Regions from separate parts of the Homo sapiens genome. Here region 1 is linked to region 2. A link means that fine-mapping ties the variant in region 2 to the expression of a gene that starts in the linked region. Tissue or cell type: whole blood. Region 2 holds a variant in brackets; the other region holds the start of a gene. All regions are shown on one strand. Distances are from middle to middle.

Region 1 (8,139 bases), 150 kb before region 2:
GACACCTCTCTAACAAAGGCAAATTAACAAGAGAAAAGCATAACAAATTTATTTGATCGTAGTTTTGTGTGACACAGGAGCCTTCAGAATGAAGACCCCAAGATATAGGGGCAACTATTCCTTTATTATTATTTTTATTTTTGATTTAGGGTCTCACTCTGTAGATCAGGCTGGAGTGCAATGTCCTGATCATAGCTCACTGTAACCTGTAACTTCTGGGCCCAAGTGATGTTGCACCTCGGCCTCCCAGAATGCTGGGGTTATAGGTATGAGCCACCTTCTCTTGGCCCATTTTTATGCTTGGGTTCAATGAAGTATGGAAAGCTGTGTAGAAATATGATTGGACAAAAGGGGTATGATCCAGCAAGGGGAATGGGGAAATCCAGCAAGGCCTGTCTGTTCAGATTTCTTCTTGGCCTTTCGATATAACATTCCTTCCTCCCAGGTATGGGGTAGGACCCCCTGGAATGAGGGTCTTAATTTCTTTATGGCCAGCAGTTAGCAAGAAAGAGAAAGGGAAGGGAGGGAGAAGATTAGAGTAAAATGTTTAGGCTCTAAGGCTGGTTTTGGGGAAAAGGTTCTGGTTTATATGACCCACCTCAGGGAAGAAGGATTCCAGTTTCTATGGCTTGCTTCAAGGGAGAATAAGAGAGTGAGAGACAGGAGGGCAGGAGAAAGCTAGACAGAGACTTTGCTTCTGAGGCTGCTTTTTATTCCTTCATTTTGGGGTATCATTTTTAGCCCCAATAGACCACCATCTCCTCTGGTACAAATTCAACTGCCATTTTGGGATCAAGTCCACATTTGACATTACCTCTCAGGCAACTTTCTGGGCAAAAGAATTTTCTAGGGAAGGTTTTATTTTTCCCTGTCTAGCATTTTTAATGGCACAGAGTCAAGGATTTCAAAACTGTTGCTAAAGGTAGCATTTATCTTGCAGGTATTAATTCAGAAAGTGCTAATGGTTGCAACAGTCTAAACAACTGAAACTTAAAACAACAACGTTTTCTTTTAGCTCAGCCTCTTCCCACAAAGCTCAGAAATGGTATGGGGAGCAGATGTGCACAGGGTGGATAGAGAATGCAGCGTAAAATCCTGCTGGTGGTTTTGGTTTAGAATGTAGATTTTACTTGCACTCTTACCAGGTAGGATCAACTGAAATCAAATGCAAAACAAAACAAGAATAGCAGGTTGATCTGAAAGAACAATCCCAGCATTGACATCATCAAGGTTTAAGCAGATACATATACATAATACATAAATTTAGTATGAATTATTTATGAGCTAAAGGGTTCAGGTTTTAGAGCCTGTAGTATAATAAGAGTTATACTGAAAGTCAGAACCAATACAAGAAACTGAAACACTTAAAAACTCATTATTTCAATATTTAATATCAGGTCCTGTGCAGGGTATTGATAATGGACATAAAAGTGAATCAAGATACAGCCCTGCCCTGGAGAGGCTCCCAGACTCTGTAGTGAAGAGGCATGTAAAGAGACAAATGAGAGCATGCCATGGTAAGTGCTGTGGTCACACAAGGAAGGAAGAGTTATACTTGCCTAGAACCTGTGGAGGCTTCATAGAGAAGGTGACTTTTAAATTATGCCTTCAGGCCAGGCGTGGTGGCTCATGCCTATAATCCCAGCACTTTGGGAGGCCAAGGCGGGTGGATCACCTGAGGTCAGGAGTTTGAGACCAGCCTGGCCAACATGGTGAAAACCCATCTCTACTAAAAAAAATAAATAAATACAAAAATTAGCTGGGCGTGGTGGCGGGCACCTGTAATCCCAGCTAGTCAGGAGGATGAGGCAAGGAGAATTGCTTGAACCTGGAAGGCGGAAGTTGCAGTCAGCGAGATCACACAGCATGAGACTCTGTCTCAGAAAAAATTAATTAATTACGCCTTCAAGGAACAACTCAGCCCAGCCTGAGTTTTCTTACAGCTAACAACAAAACAACAATGTGACACAATTGCTGTTACCATACAACCCACTAGAGGGGTTACAGATATTCTAAGTCTCACCACAACCCTAAAAGGTAGTTATATTCCAATAGACTGATGAGGAAACTGAAGTTCATAGCTAGAGATACAAGATTTAAGCCCAGACCTATTTCATTCCAAATCCCTTACCATAGCCCTGCATAGCCCAGAAATATCTACTTCTGCTTCTATCACCAACCTGTACATGGTTAACTTGTAATTACACAGTCTTTAGTGTGAGAACTACTAACTCTGGAAGTCCAATTAGAATGTCAAAATTTAGCCTAAAGAATTGGGTATAAAGTGAAAGGTCAAGACAGAGTCTGTGCACCCAGTTCATCTAGCTCACAGTACCCTCTCCTTCCTGGAGATGTGCTGAACTTCAAGCACATTTGCTTCAAAATGGTTTATTCTGGTTTGTGTGTATGCATGATTCCCATGAACTATGAACACCCTGAAGTCGGAGAATAAGCCTTGTACTTCTTTAAGACCCTCACTCAAGTTGACTGATTGCTAATTCTACCAGTCCTTTACAGAGAGCTTGCTAAGTGTGGATGTTAATGTGAATTAGGTGGACTGAGGTAAGATCACTAGATTTAAGGTTTACATGCTACAAAATAAGAAGAGGTGAACTAACCAGTGTAGCATAGTTTTTAGACTAGTGGCTTTCAAGCATTAATGTGCATGTGAATCACCTGCCTACACGTGAAGAACTACCCAGTTGATCCAATTAGAAGGCAGACACAAGAGTAGCCAAAAGTATTGCAATAAAGCAACTTGGGGTGGACTCAACTTGCAGGGGATTCAGATCCCAGGTTTCCAAACCTTTTTGCTATTCCTGGTTCTTTTGCTTTCAGTGAAGAGTAGTTAAGTACAATAGTAGCTCTCATTTACTGACTACTTACAAAGTGATTGGCACTGTTCTTGGTGCTTTGAGCATATTAGCTAATTCTCACAGCACCCTGTAGTACTATACCTATAGGGATGATAAGGGGATGTGGGTGGTGGGGAGGGGGCAGATAAAAAGAACAGTAAATTTCCTAAGTTTAAACTGGAAGAATAGGGATTTCATCCTGGTTCACCTGAGTACAAAGTCTAAGGTTCAATGATTCCTTGACACTGGGTAGCAAGGGAGCATTTCAGGGATGCCTAAGCTTGTGGTCAGGTGCCAACGGTACAAAGATAGAAGTATATCAGAGAGCCCTTGCAGAATAAGGCCCTCCACAGGAGGGTTGTGACCTTGGTACTTGCCTCACTGTGTTTAAATTCAGGTAAGGTAAGAGAATTGAAGAGGTAAAGCTACCTTAGAGAGTATTGCTGCATCTACCCTGGTGACTTACAAGGTACTTGAATTTTTTTTTTTCTAGCAAACTGCTAAAGTTAGCCTTTGCCTTTTTCCCAGAGACTCTCTAGGAATTTTTCCCATCTGCTGACTAGGAGGTAAGCCCGGACCTAAATTTTTGTCTTGTTGTAGGTTAATTAAGACTGGTGTTAGATTCAGCTCCTAAGGCCTAAGAGAATTTAAGGTTGTCTTCTGGGAAGGACACCCAACAGCAGCATTGGAATTGGAAAAAAAGTGTAGGATTTTGCTGAGTGAGCAGGGGGAAAGCAATGTAAAGCCCAAGAGAATATCTTTTGAACAAACGTCCTTTTCATTTTGGTTTAGAAATAGAAACGTGGTAAAAGGAGGCGACTGTTTTCTGAAGGCTTGTAGCACGAAAACAGGCCAACTGGCCAGCAACTAGTTGTCTATCAGTTTCTCTACTCACATACATCTGCCTTTTCCAGACTGCCAGCGCGGAGCACTAGTTTGACTTTGGGTGCTCTTCAAATAGCTGGCATTGATAAGGCATTCCCAGAAGACTGTGTTACTTAGTAATCTTGTCGGTACATTTTTTCACTGGGCAGAGATTTTCCAAACAGAGAGCTGCCAGCTTTCAAGACGTCAGAGTGCTTTTTCATCCTGAAATTGGGTGGGAAAATGGGGAGAAGAAAAGCACGGTTCAGATCAATCAATGAGAGAGAACCCCTCCCTCCATACTCGTTAAACAACAGGTGGTTTTGCTGTGCACCGTCAACTCCTTTATGCGGGAGCTGTAGGCGGGGCATTCCAACTGAGTCTCCCTGGAATCTGCCCCTTAGCCCGTATTGCAGGGGCGGTGCAGTTGGGGATTCCGGCCTGAAAGGAGACTTGGTTGTCAAGGGGCTCAAGGGCTTCATGATCCAAGGATATTGGGTTTTGCTTTTCTCCTTCTCCATCTTCCTCATTCTATCCCACCGTCCCCTCCCCACCCTTCTCTTAGGAGGCCTTCGCTTCTCCTGTGGAGGGGTTATCTTCATCCTGACCCTGGCCTTCGGAGGAGTTCCCAGAAGGGCTATTTTTAGTGGTGGCTGCTCCCCTCTAACTTACCCAGGGGAGGAGCTGCGGTGGCTGAGCCGACGCTGCGCGCACAGCCGCCTGTGGTTTTCCGCGCATTGTGAGGGATGAGGGGTGGAGGTGGTATTAGACGCAGCCGAATCCTCCCTCAGAGTCCGCCAGGTGGGCGTCTCAGGGGTGGGAGTGGCCGCGTCGTGAAGCGGAGAGAGGATTTCTCTCCTGGTCCTGGAGAAGGCCCCCGGCGGCCGGCGGCATCCCTCGCTGGCGAGTCCCGGGAGCGAGGTGGTCTCTGCAGGGGAGGAAGTTCCCGGGCGGCGCGGCCTGCGTCACAGCGGGGCTGGCACCGCGGAGTCGACTCGGCGGGCGGTGGCGACCCCGGGGCCGGGCGCTGGGCGGCGCTGGCTGCCGCTAGCCGGGCTGCGTGCGGGGCGGCGCTGGAGGCGGCTCCGTCCGCGGCCGGGGAGGCGGAGGGGAGGAGGGCTTGCGGGGCTGGGGCGTTAGCTGCGTCCCGGCTGGAAGCCCGCGAAGAGAAGTAGGAGGAAGGCGCCGCCGTGGCCGCGGCCGCAGTGCTCGGGCGCGACAAGCCATGAGCAGCGACCCCGCGGGCGACGCCGCCGTCCCTGGCAGCCGCTGAGCCCGACCCCCAGGCAGCTCGCCGCTCCCTAGCACCTTCTCCAGTCGACACTCTCGCGCCCGGAGGTAAGGGCGGGGGATCCGCGGAGGGATGGAGAGGGGCAGCCCGCAGAGGGCCACCCGCTCGGTCCGCTGTGCGCGCCGGACCGGGACTCGCCCCGCCTCACTCGCGTCCTTGCTTCCCCCCGGCTCTCAGACAGGCAGAATGTGGTTGCCCGCCCGGCGTGTGGTGCTGGGAACCTTCCGCTACTGCGGCTCAGGAGCCCGCCAACCCCTACCCCACCCAATCCGCGCTAGCCCGAGCGGCCGCGCGAGGATCTCAGCCTGGCGCCCAACGCCGCGCCGCAGCGGCAGGTCCTGCAGACTGGGCGCGGGGGTGGGGGGGCGGTCCGCGAGGGGAAATGCGTCCGTGGCCGGGGCGATCGTTGTTCTTTCCTACCTCGAAAATCTCTGAGACCCCGGGGCCAGTCCTTTCCGGTCTATCACCCCCCTGCCACCTCCGAACCCTTGAAGTTAGCACTTTTGGGCAGGGAAAGGAATTGGAAGGTTTCTCGAAGAAACGTGAGAGCACCGTGTGCTCACCTGCAGGACAGGAGGGAAGGGGTTCAGCTTGATCGGGCGGGCCCCAGAAGCCAGGTGTTTAGGCCAGCGGTTGAGGCCAAAACCGCTGCCTTCATCCCACGCCTAGGCTCGCTGATCTTTCCCTTTCCAGCTGGTTCCCACCAATGAGATGATTAGGGATGGAGTTAGCAACTCAGGAGCCTTAGATGTGTTCTGTGGACACGAATGCCTTTCTTTTCTCCCTCAGCCGGTTCTTCCCTCCCCAACCCCCACGCCTGCCCGGTATACAGCAAAGTCCAAACAGTTTCTTCCAAACCTCGCATCCTCCGTAGTTTTGCAACAGCCGGACACCTAGCCCGCATCCTAATGCGGATATTTCAGAGTATTACGGCTAAACTTCCCTTGGTTTCAAATTCCTTAAACATGTTAAAGCCTCAGCAAACGTTAGGAAACATTTTCAGGTTCCCATCCTCAAAGTAAAAAATAAGAACCAATCCATCTTTGTTGGAGTGCCGGTGTTTGGCACGGGGAGGCTTGAATTACCTCCATTTAAAGCAGCCTTTGAAGGAAGGAATAGGTAAAGGAAATCGCAGCCGTTTGTAAGTCACATACTTCTTTCGCGGTAGTGTGAGAAACGTAGCCTTAACCAACAGTCACATTTCCCGACAGGTATGTGATGGTTTCCCAAAGCATCGATGAGGCTTCAGCGTGGGCAGGTCATTAAGATGCCATTTAGACGAAAAAGGAGTAAAAGTGGAGTAGTCCTCTTGGTTAGCACAATGCTGCAAAATCGCCAGAGCCAATAATTTTTATACATTTATAAATTCTGTTTATTTTTAAATAATTTGTTGAAAACCCAAAACGTAATCTGAGCTGCATAAAACTCGCTCAATTCATAAACAATGTGTTGAGTGTGTAAACAAACATTAAATGTATACAGCTCTAGTCTAGGATATTTGCATTTCTTGTGACTTGCTTTAACAGGGAAGGCCAAGGCTATAATTGGTTTGCTTTACTCTGGAGTGATTAAGTTCTGTCTTGGGGTCAGTTTGTTTCCTTTGAGGGGGATGTAGGGCAGTTTTGCAAAGATGGATATTTGCCATGGTTCACATAATAGATTGGGCACAGACAGGACCCATCAACCCAACAATTGTATCAGAGATACCAAGTATATTTAACAATTTTCTTATTAATAAAATCAAGCCTTTATTAATAGTACTAATCTATTATTTCTCAGATTAAGCACTTTAATGAAATGTATTTTTAAAAGGGAATGCTTTTAGTGAAAATAATGCATTAGGAGCTGTAAGATAAATGAATGAAAATGTTGCACTTTATTTCCATGAAGTTTATCTTTTAAAAAACAATACAAAGTTAGAAATATGTTTAACTCCCAAGTGTTCAATTTTTACCAAATTGTTATGATTTTTAATACTCTATAGTATTATTAAGTTATAGTCACCTATGACATTATAATAGAGCGAGCCTAAGTTTAAAATGAAATGAGGTGGAAACTATATTTATTTTGCCAAGAATTGTGTTAATGATTTAATATGGTACATTGCTATAACATAATCTAGCTGCATGCTAGATACCTAATACACATTATCTCAGGTTCTTACAATGAACCCCTAAGGTAAATGGTGCCATCCACATTTTACATAAGAAGGAAGTTCAGAGTTTCTGATTTGGCTGAAGACTATGCAGCTAAGTTAGTGCCTGAATGAAGCCAAGCCTCCTTAGTCTTAATGATATACTTTTTTTTATTATCCAAAGCTGCTTATTTATTTTTTCTATATAAATTTGTTGTTAACTCACCATAGTGACTATATGAGGAAACAGAGATTGTAAAGTTTTCTGCCCAGCGTTTTCCATATAACAGAATTCCAATTTTGAATCAAGGCCATCTGTTTCTAAAACCCATGTTCTTGCCACTGATTTCTCTTAAATGACTGATCCAGAGCTTAACCTTATGGACAATTTACTCCTGCCCATCAGCTATTATCACTGACATGACAATGATGGTCTCATGGGCTGTAACACACTCCCAAGATTTTATACTTCATTTCTGGAGTGTTGACTGTATCTCCAGTTTCAGATCACTCATAAAAGCATATTACAACTAATGAGGGTTACATAACCATGGAGGTATCCTTGAATCTACTTGATTCCTTTTGAACTATAAATCATTCTGGTTTGGCATGGGGTAAAGAGAATGGCCTCCAGAAAAAGCTGCTGTCAAATTCGGACTCTGCCGTGCAGTAGGAGTGCAAATGAGGTCAGATTATTCAACTTCTTTGAACCCTGGTTTCCTCTTGTATAATGGGATTAATAAAGCCTCCCTAGCTGGATCACTGTGCAGATTACTTGTAATAGTGCATGTAAAGGACAGCTCTTGTCACCTAGTAGGTGCTCAGTAAGGATTAACACCAGTGTATCCTAGCACTGGTAGAAACTTCTGCTGTATTTCACTTTATGTATATTTTACATGCACGTAGTGATTAGTCATTGCTATCAGTGATTCACTCTTTATGTAATTATACAAAGGTCTAATCTGATTCTTAGCATCTTTAACTTTTGAATCACA
Region 2 (8,139 bases):
TGCATTTCTCTGATGACCAGTGATGGTGAGCATTTTTTCATGTGTTTTTAGTTATATTTTTGAGTTTTAGGTGTTCTTCATATATTCCAGATATTAATACTTTATCAGATATGTGCTTTGCAAATATTTCCCCCCACCTAGTAGGTTGTATTTTTGCTTTTAAAGTATCCTTTGATACACACAAGAAAAGTTGTATCCTTTGATTCACAGAAGACTTTTTTTTTTTTTTTTTTTTTTGAGACGGAGTCTCGCCCCGTCACCAGGCTGGGGTGCAGTGGTGCAATCTCGGGTCACTGGAACCTCCACCTCCCGGGTTCAAGTGATGCTTCTGCCTCAGCCTCCCGAGTAGCTGGGATTACAGGCACACGCCACCACACCCAGCTAATTTTTGTATTTTTAGTAGAGACACGATTGTTGGCCAGGATGGTCTCAATCTCCTGACCTCGTGATCTGTCTGCCTTGGCCTCCCAAAATTCTGGGATTACAGGCATGAGCCACTGCGCCCAGCCTTGATTTAATTTCCTACTCTGTGTCTAACATCACATAAAGGATTGTCCAAACAGCAGAATTTGTGTATAGCTCTTTTATATGTGAAAATCTCAGACTAAATAGTTTTATTTACAATAGCCCAAAATTGTAAACAACCCAAATGTTCACCGGTAATAGAATAGATGAATAAACTGTGGAATATTGAAACAGTGGAACAAGGCAGTAATAAAAAAGAATGCAGCCCTACGTTAAGTACAAACATGGATGAATCTCATTGACATACTGATAAGAAAGGAGGCCAGACACAAAACTATACATATATTATGTTTCCTTTTAGTATTAAGTTAGAGAGCAGGCAACACAAATCTATGGTTATAGAAGTCAGGTCTGTGGTTACATGAAGTGGGATATTGAGAAGAGACATAAGAGAGACAAAGAAGCCTTCTGAGCTGTTGGAAATATATCTTGATCTAGGCAGTGGCTACATGGGTGTGTGTGTGTGTGTGTGTGTAAATTCATCAAGTTTACACAGGATTTGTACACTTTGCTGTTTATATATTATACCTCAATTTAAAATATTTTTAAATCTCTGGCTAATGGTGAGGTTCACAGAGTTCATGTTAGTATATCATCATAGTGATTTTTCTCATCAGAATATAGTCTGGCCTCTTTGGGAAGTTTTCAAATGATAACTGAGTTTAATCAATCAGCAGCAAACAAAGGCTCTTTAACAGTCACAGAGTCGGCCGGGCACGGTGGCTTACACCTGTAATCCCAGCACTTTGGGAGGCTGAGGCTGGTGGATCACCTGAGGTCAGGAGTTCAAGATCAGCCTGGCCAACGTGGTGAAACCCTGTCTCTACTAAAAATAAAAAATTAGCCAGGCATGGCGGCAGACACCTGTAATCCCAGCTACTCAGGAGGCTGAGGCTGGAGAATTGCTTGAACCCAGGAGGTGGAAGTTGCAGTGAGCCAAGATCGCGCCATTGCACTCCAGCCTGGGCCACAAGAGCAAAACTCCGTCTCAAAAAAAAAAAAAAAATGAAAAAGTCACGGAGTCTTGGAAATTTGCTTGTCGCAGAAAGAGTTTTCTTGAGGACTAGAGAGAAGGGTAGTAAATCATGTGCTTCTATATTGATGTTATATTCACAAAATAAATATAGATTGCCTGGAAAAAATCAGCAAGTAATGAAGTAGGATGCTTTGATTGCTGTAGTATTTGAAACTATACCCTGATGGTTGCTCAGAGATGAGAGTTGTTGCTAAGATATTTTAGATACCAGGAAAAGAGATTGAAAAAGATTATGAGCACGAAAGCAGATTTTTTAAAAAAATACAAGTTCAAGTGTGTGTTGTTTTGACGCAGACTCAGAAGTGAAATTGGGAAGGCACAAAGTGATAGCATTGGGCTTCAATCTGTTCACTGACTATTCCCTCAGTAAAGAATTGAAGTTGTGGAAATGATCCCTGTCACACAGGCTATCTGAAGCAAATTAGATTTTTAAAAATCATATAGGTGGAGACCGAGGTGGCTAGAAATATCAATCATCACTCTAGGTCAATGGAGTAGGGAGATGATTAGCCCCTGGGCTGCAAGAGTGAGTGGGAAGATCAGGCAATTCTGGACAAGATTATCACACCCTAGAAGATTAGACTAATATTCAAAATTAAATTTATAAAATGGCCCACCAAAAATAGGATGAAAAACAGTAAAGATGGGGGCGGGCGGTTGCATGTTTGGTTCAATTCATCTTGGGTCCTGAGACAAGATGGAAAATGAATCACTAAGTAAAAGTGCAGTAGAAAAAGCACTAAGACTTTCCAAATGGAAAAACATACTTGAGCAACGTGTGCTATTTCAAAAGTTTTCAAGATACTGTAATAAGTTAACAAAAGTATGACAAAGAAAAATGTATAGTATTCAAGAGCCAAAAGTTATACTCTATAAGCATATATATCATGTTTTCCTCACTGAGTAGAAGGATATTTTCTTCTTTAAGAAGCATTAATTTTTCTTTTTTTTTTTTGAGACAGAGTCTCACTCTGTCACCAGGCTAGAGTGCAATGGCGCAATCTCAGCTCACTGCAACCTCCGCCTCCTGGGTTCAAGCAATTCTCCTGTCTCAGCCTCCCGAGTAGCTGGAACTACAGGCATGCGCCACCACGCCCAGCTAATTTTTGTATTTTTAGTAGAGACAGTGTTTCACTATGTTGGCCAGGATGGTCATGATCTCTTGACCTCGTGATCCGCCCACCTCAGCCTCCCAAAGTTCTGGATTACAGGCGTGAGCCACCGCGCCCAGCCAAAGCATTAATTTTTAAAGGCATTAGAAATTCAACTTTCATTAAGCAAGCAGTATGCAATAGATGTGGAAGTCCTCAGGCACTATGCTATGATTTGAATACTATCTAAATTTCAGGAAAGAGCCCCCATCCCATATCTTTAAAGTGAATTATTTAAAAATTGGAAATTAACCTTTTTTAACAAAAGATTACAGGAATAACTGTATACATATTTTCACATATGTAATTTCCAGTGTCATTATAAAGGGATCTGAATAGGTGCTAACATCAACAATAGGGATCAAAAAAGAGCTGAGCTTCAGTGCCACGACGACATTCCAATGTGTTGTCTGTTTTTGAATTGAACAAGCAGTAAAGGTTATAAAGTGTCTATCTATTTCAAAAAGATCATGAGAAACAGGACTGACCCCGCCTGTCCCTGACAGCTTATGCATTATATGGTTTTTCATTCCAGCATTCAATGATTTCAAGTGTCTCACACACAGAGTTGATTATTCATAGTGCTCATACAACCAACAGATGGCAGAATTGGCCATGTTGTTATTCTATGATGACTACAAATCTAGATCTATATCAAGCAGGATAGTTTTTTTTTTTTTTTAGACAAGATCTCACTCTGTCACTTAGGCTGGAGTGCAGTGGCGCCATCATGCCTCACTGCAGATTTGACCTCCTGGGCTCAAGCAATCCTCCCACCTCAGCCTCCTGAACACATGCCACCACACCCAGCTAATTTTTTTAATTTTTTTGTAGAGATGAGGTCTCACTATGCTGCCCAGGCTTGTCTTTAACTCCTAGCCTAAGTAATCCTTTCATTTTGACTTCCCAGAATGCTGGAATTATAGGCATGAGCCACCTTGTCAGGCCAGATTTTTTTCTTAAAATTGTTGTGGCCGAGTGCAGTGGTACATGCCTATTGTTCTAGCTATTCAGGAGGCTAAGGTGGGAGAATCACATGAGTCCAGGTGTTTGAGGCCAGCCTGGGCAATATGGCAAGACCTCGACTCTAAAAATGTATAATAATAATAAAGATGGTTGCGTATCCCCCTAGGAATCAGAATGTCTTACACATACACATCCATATACTCTTGCTCTTTCCAATTTTAAAGTATGTTTCTGGGCTTTTTTCCCTAAAACATACCAAAAGAAAGGATCTCACCTTCAACTATTACTGCATGGTAACAGCACAGTCAGTTCAAGAAAAGACAGAGCTCATGAGCTGTTTTTTTTTTTTTTCTTTTCTCACAACACATCTGGCACCAAATGAGATTTTTCCTCCCACCAACCAATTCTCCAACTCTCCAGACAACAACTGGCTGTTGTACAATTCAATTCAATTCTGACACTAACTGCCAGAGTTGGTGTCAGATGCTAAAAGTGAAAGGGCTCAGTTCCACAAAACTGTCTCCACATCAGACTTCAGATGCCAATCACAAGTCCAGGACATCTGGGCTTCTGACCCACCAGCTACAGATCAGGGGTTCCCACAACCCCCTCCTAGAACAGCTCACAGAACTTAGTTAAACACTTTACATATTAGTACCAGTTTATTATAAACTCAGAAACAGCCAAACTCAGAAACAGCCAAATGGA[A/G]AAGACGCACAAGTCGAGGTGTGGGGGTGGTGCGTGGAGTTTCCTCTGGCACCCTCCCAGCACCTTGATGTGGTCACCAAGTATTTAGGGGGTTTTATGGAGGTTTCATCATGTCGGCATGATTGATTATTAACTGAAGCCCTAGCTTCTCTCCCTTGGAGGATGGGACTGAATTTTCCAAGTTTCTCATCAAGACTGGGTCTTCCTGGCAACCAACCTCAATCCCAAAGTTATAAAGGAGCCCAGCAAGAGTTGCCTCATTAGAACAAAGATGCTCTTATCACTCAGAGAATTACTAGAGCTTTAGGAGCTCTATGCCAGGAACCAGAAACAAATACATATTTCTCTGGGTTCTTTCTTTATACATATCTCATTTTAAAAAGGCAGCTCTTCCAATAAAGAAAAGTTCAGAATCAGCATAAACTATCATCAGCCTTTCTGTTGCAGTATAACTGCTGGACTTTCCTCATTTCCCAAAGTGACCCTAAAATCAATCAGACCTGACCTGGGGCCAGATCAGACTTCCCTGAGCTCGGATTCTCTGGGCCCAAATTGTGGTTCCAAACAGCTCCAGCCCACAGTCTCCTCTCTGCCCTTCATCACCTCCTAGGTACATGTGAGAGACTCAGATCTATGGTTTTACATCTGTTCTAAAGGGAATTCAACTCATCCCAGGGGTTGGTTCACACACATAAAAACAAGGAAACTAAGCTCCTAATTAACATGTGCATATTATTTGTCTTCCACTTCTTGCAGGATCACGGGATCAAATGCTATATATATATGAGTAGCTTCTGCAATGCCAGGAATCTCATGACCCCCTCTCCACTGGCAAAAATAATATTAATAGCTAGCCCTTATTGAGCATTCACTATGTGTCAGACACTGTTCTAAATACTTTAGAATAGTGCACTGCACTTATTCATTCAGCAAGTTTTTAGTGAGTGCCACTCTTTGCCAGGCACAGTCCTAAACACTGGGGCTAGAGCAGTAAGTGAATAAAAATACATGCCTTCACAGAGCGTATAGCCTAATGAGAGAAGAAAAATAATAAACAAAGTAAATAAACTATATAGTATATTGGAAAGTTATAAGCCTGTAACTGAACACAGTTTCAGTCACTGCTTGCAGAGTCCAATTAACAAGAGCGAGGTATGGTAGGGGAAAATTGACTTTATTTCCAAAGTTGGCTAAGGGGAAGTGGCTGGATTCCTATCCAAAGCAACCAGTTTGAATTTTGAGGTGGAAAGGCAAGCGTTTAAAAAGGGAAGACCTGATATGGAAGGGATGCAGGAATTGCACTGAGTTTTATTCCAGTGGCTATCTTGGGTCCCGGTCCACCTGGAGTGTGGGCTGGCGTTCATCTCAACAATGGCCAGGTTGTTGATTAGCCACCTTGAGGTAATCTCTGGAATTCTGCAGCTGGGTCTCCAGGCTTGATCTGTCTCTCTCAGGATTTGTCCCTGGAACTTCTAAGTAGGCACCTAGTTAGATACTAACATATAGTTAGATAAATGTGAAGGGCGTGTATACGGTGAGAAAGGGAGGGATGGGGAGTCTATTTTAAGGCTAAGGGAAAAGGCTTCTGCAGTTTGCTTCAAGGTTACATCTTGAAACCCAAGAGAAAGGAAAAAAAATTTTAAAATGCATTTTGAAGTTAAGCTGCCCCTTTACAGGCCCATACAGAAAACGATGCAGGTAACAGGGATAGGGTGTGCTGGTGTAGGATGAGGGACAATTGCCATTCAAATAGAGTGATCAGGAACCTCAGGGAAAAGATGGCATATGAGCAAAGAGTCAATGCAAAAGGCCTGGGGCCCGAGCTTTACTGGCATGGTCAAAAAGGATGCAGTGTAGCTGAAGTGGAGTGAACAAGGGACAGAGTCACAGGAGGTGAGGCTGAAGAAGTAAGGACAGGGTGGTTGGGCAGATTATGAAGTCTTTTATGTCATTGTAAGGAATCTGACCTCGACCAGGCGTGGTGGCTCACACCTGTAATTTCAGCACTTTGGGAGGCTGAGGCAGGTGGATCACTTGAGCTCACGAGTTTGAGATCAGCCTGGGCAACACGGCAAAACCCTGTCTCTACCAAAAATACAAAAAATTAGCCAGACATGGTGGCACGCACTTATAGTCCCAGCTACTCAGGAGGCAGAGGAAGGATGGATTGAGCCTGGGAAGTGGAGGCTGGAGTAAGCTGAAATTGCACCACTGCACTCCAGCCAGGGTGATAGAGCCAGACCTTGTCTTAAAAAAAAAAAAAAAAAGGAATTTGACATTTACTTTGAGTGGAAAGGAAAGCTATGGAGTGTCTTGATCTAATTTATGTTCTAACAGAGTCTTTGCAGCTCCCATGTTGAGCAGAGACTGCAGAGTTAAGGATATAAACAAGGAGACCATTTAGGGGGCTATTATAACAACCCAGGTAAGATATTGTCTTAGATCTGGATCCTTGGAAACTAACTCTGAGATGAGCAATTACATCCACAGGGTTATAGAGCGTGCTCTTGGGAGATACTTGTGTCAGGACTTGAGGAAAGCATAATAGGTCAGAGAGAGAAGCTGACCTGAAAGATGGTGGCATCTGACGCCTCAGCCAATCCTATGGGGAGCCCTGGAGCTGGGATGGCCCTTCAGAGTTGTCCAAAATTAGGTTAGTTTTCCATGGCTGCTATAACAAATTACCACAAGCTTGGTGGCTTAAAACAACAGAAGTGTATTATTTTACAATTCTAAATAACAGAATTGTAAGAGCCCGAAATGAGTCTCATGGGACTAGTAAGGTGTCAGCAGAGCTGCATTCTGCTAGAGACTTGAGAGGGAGGATCTGTTTCCCTGCCTTTTCCTGCTGTTAGAAGCTTAGAAGCTGCCTGCATTGCACCTTTTAGAGGCCAACTGAATCCCAGCAATTGCCATCACATCAACACATCTCTTCCTCTGACTCTGACTCCTGCCTCCCTCTTTCATTTACATGGAGGCTTGTGATTACATTGGGCCCACCCAAATGATCCAGGACAATCTCTACATCAGAACGTCAACTGGTTAGCAACCTTACTTCCCCTTGCCATGTAACCTAACACATTCACAGGTCTGGGGATTAAGCTATCATTCTGTCTACCACAGGCAAGGTGGCCAGGTGTTCGTATCCATACATTGGCCAGGCTTTGGTGGGGGGCTGCCCCTTGGGAGAGCAAGGCAGTTCTCAGCCAAGGCAATCCCCATGAGGGACACACCTGTATGCCTTTGACAGCCAACATTCCCAGCAGGTGGAGGACAGGGACCTCAGCTCTGAAGAGGATACCTGGGAGGAATGACCAATATGGTAATCACTGTAGCACAAAGCAATTGGATGTTGGATCTATTTTGAAATTAGATTCAGCAGGATTTGCTGATGAGAAAAAAGGTCTCAAGGATACTCCATGATTTAGGGACTGAACAATGGAAAACTAGATCTGCTGTTAATTAGACAAAAAACACTGAATCAGTACTGCCTCATTTAATCCTTAAGATTAAACTGAGGAGAGTACTTTTATTTACTTCATAATACAGTCGAGGAGATTGAGGCACAAAGATGTAAAGAAACCCGTCCAAGGCCACTCAGTGAACAAGTGACAAAGCCAGGATTTGAACGATTTGAACCCAGCCAGTGCCCCCCAAAACACTCCGTTTTATCATTTTAAAATGATAACGGAACCCTTTCTATAAAATAGTTGTTTAGGGATCCAAAATTGAGCTTAACATTATTTTACAGAA

Evidence for each region. PIP is the estimated chance that this variant, and not a neighbour inherited with it, causes the effect.
Region 1: LRRC8C starts here. The variant in region 2 is fine-mapped to the expression of LRRC8C in whole blood (TOPMed, PIP 0.96).

Annotation. Positions count from the first base shown.
Region 1 is chr1:89,628,266-89,636,404 of GRCh38, forward strand. LRRC8C (leucine rich repeat containing 8 VRAC subunit C) reads left to right here and starts at 4,855. Exons shown (of 3, transcript NM_032270.5): 1 at 4,855-5,057. LRRC8C-DT (LRRC8C divergent transcript) reads right to left here and starts at 4,629. Exons shown (of 3, transcript NR_033981.1): 1 at 4,392-4,629; 2 at 3,751-3,944. RefSeq lists a silencer at 4,657-5,316 and enhancers at 5,697-5,746, 5,777-5,826.
Region 2 is chr1:89,777,531-89,785,669 of GRCh38, forward strand. All of the region lies in intron 1 of LOC107985744 (a long non-coding RNA gene), which reads left to right. Among named protein-coding and RNA genes, the nearest start is that of LRRC8D, 39 kb to the right of the region's middle. The variant A/G (reference allele first, on the strand shown) is at 4,387.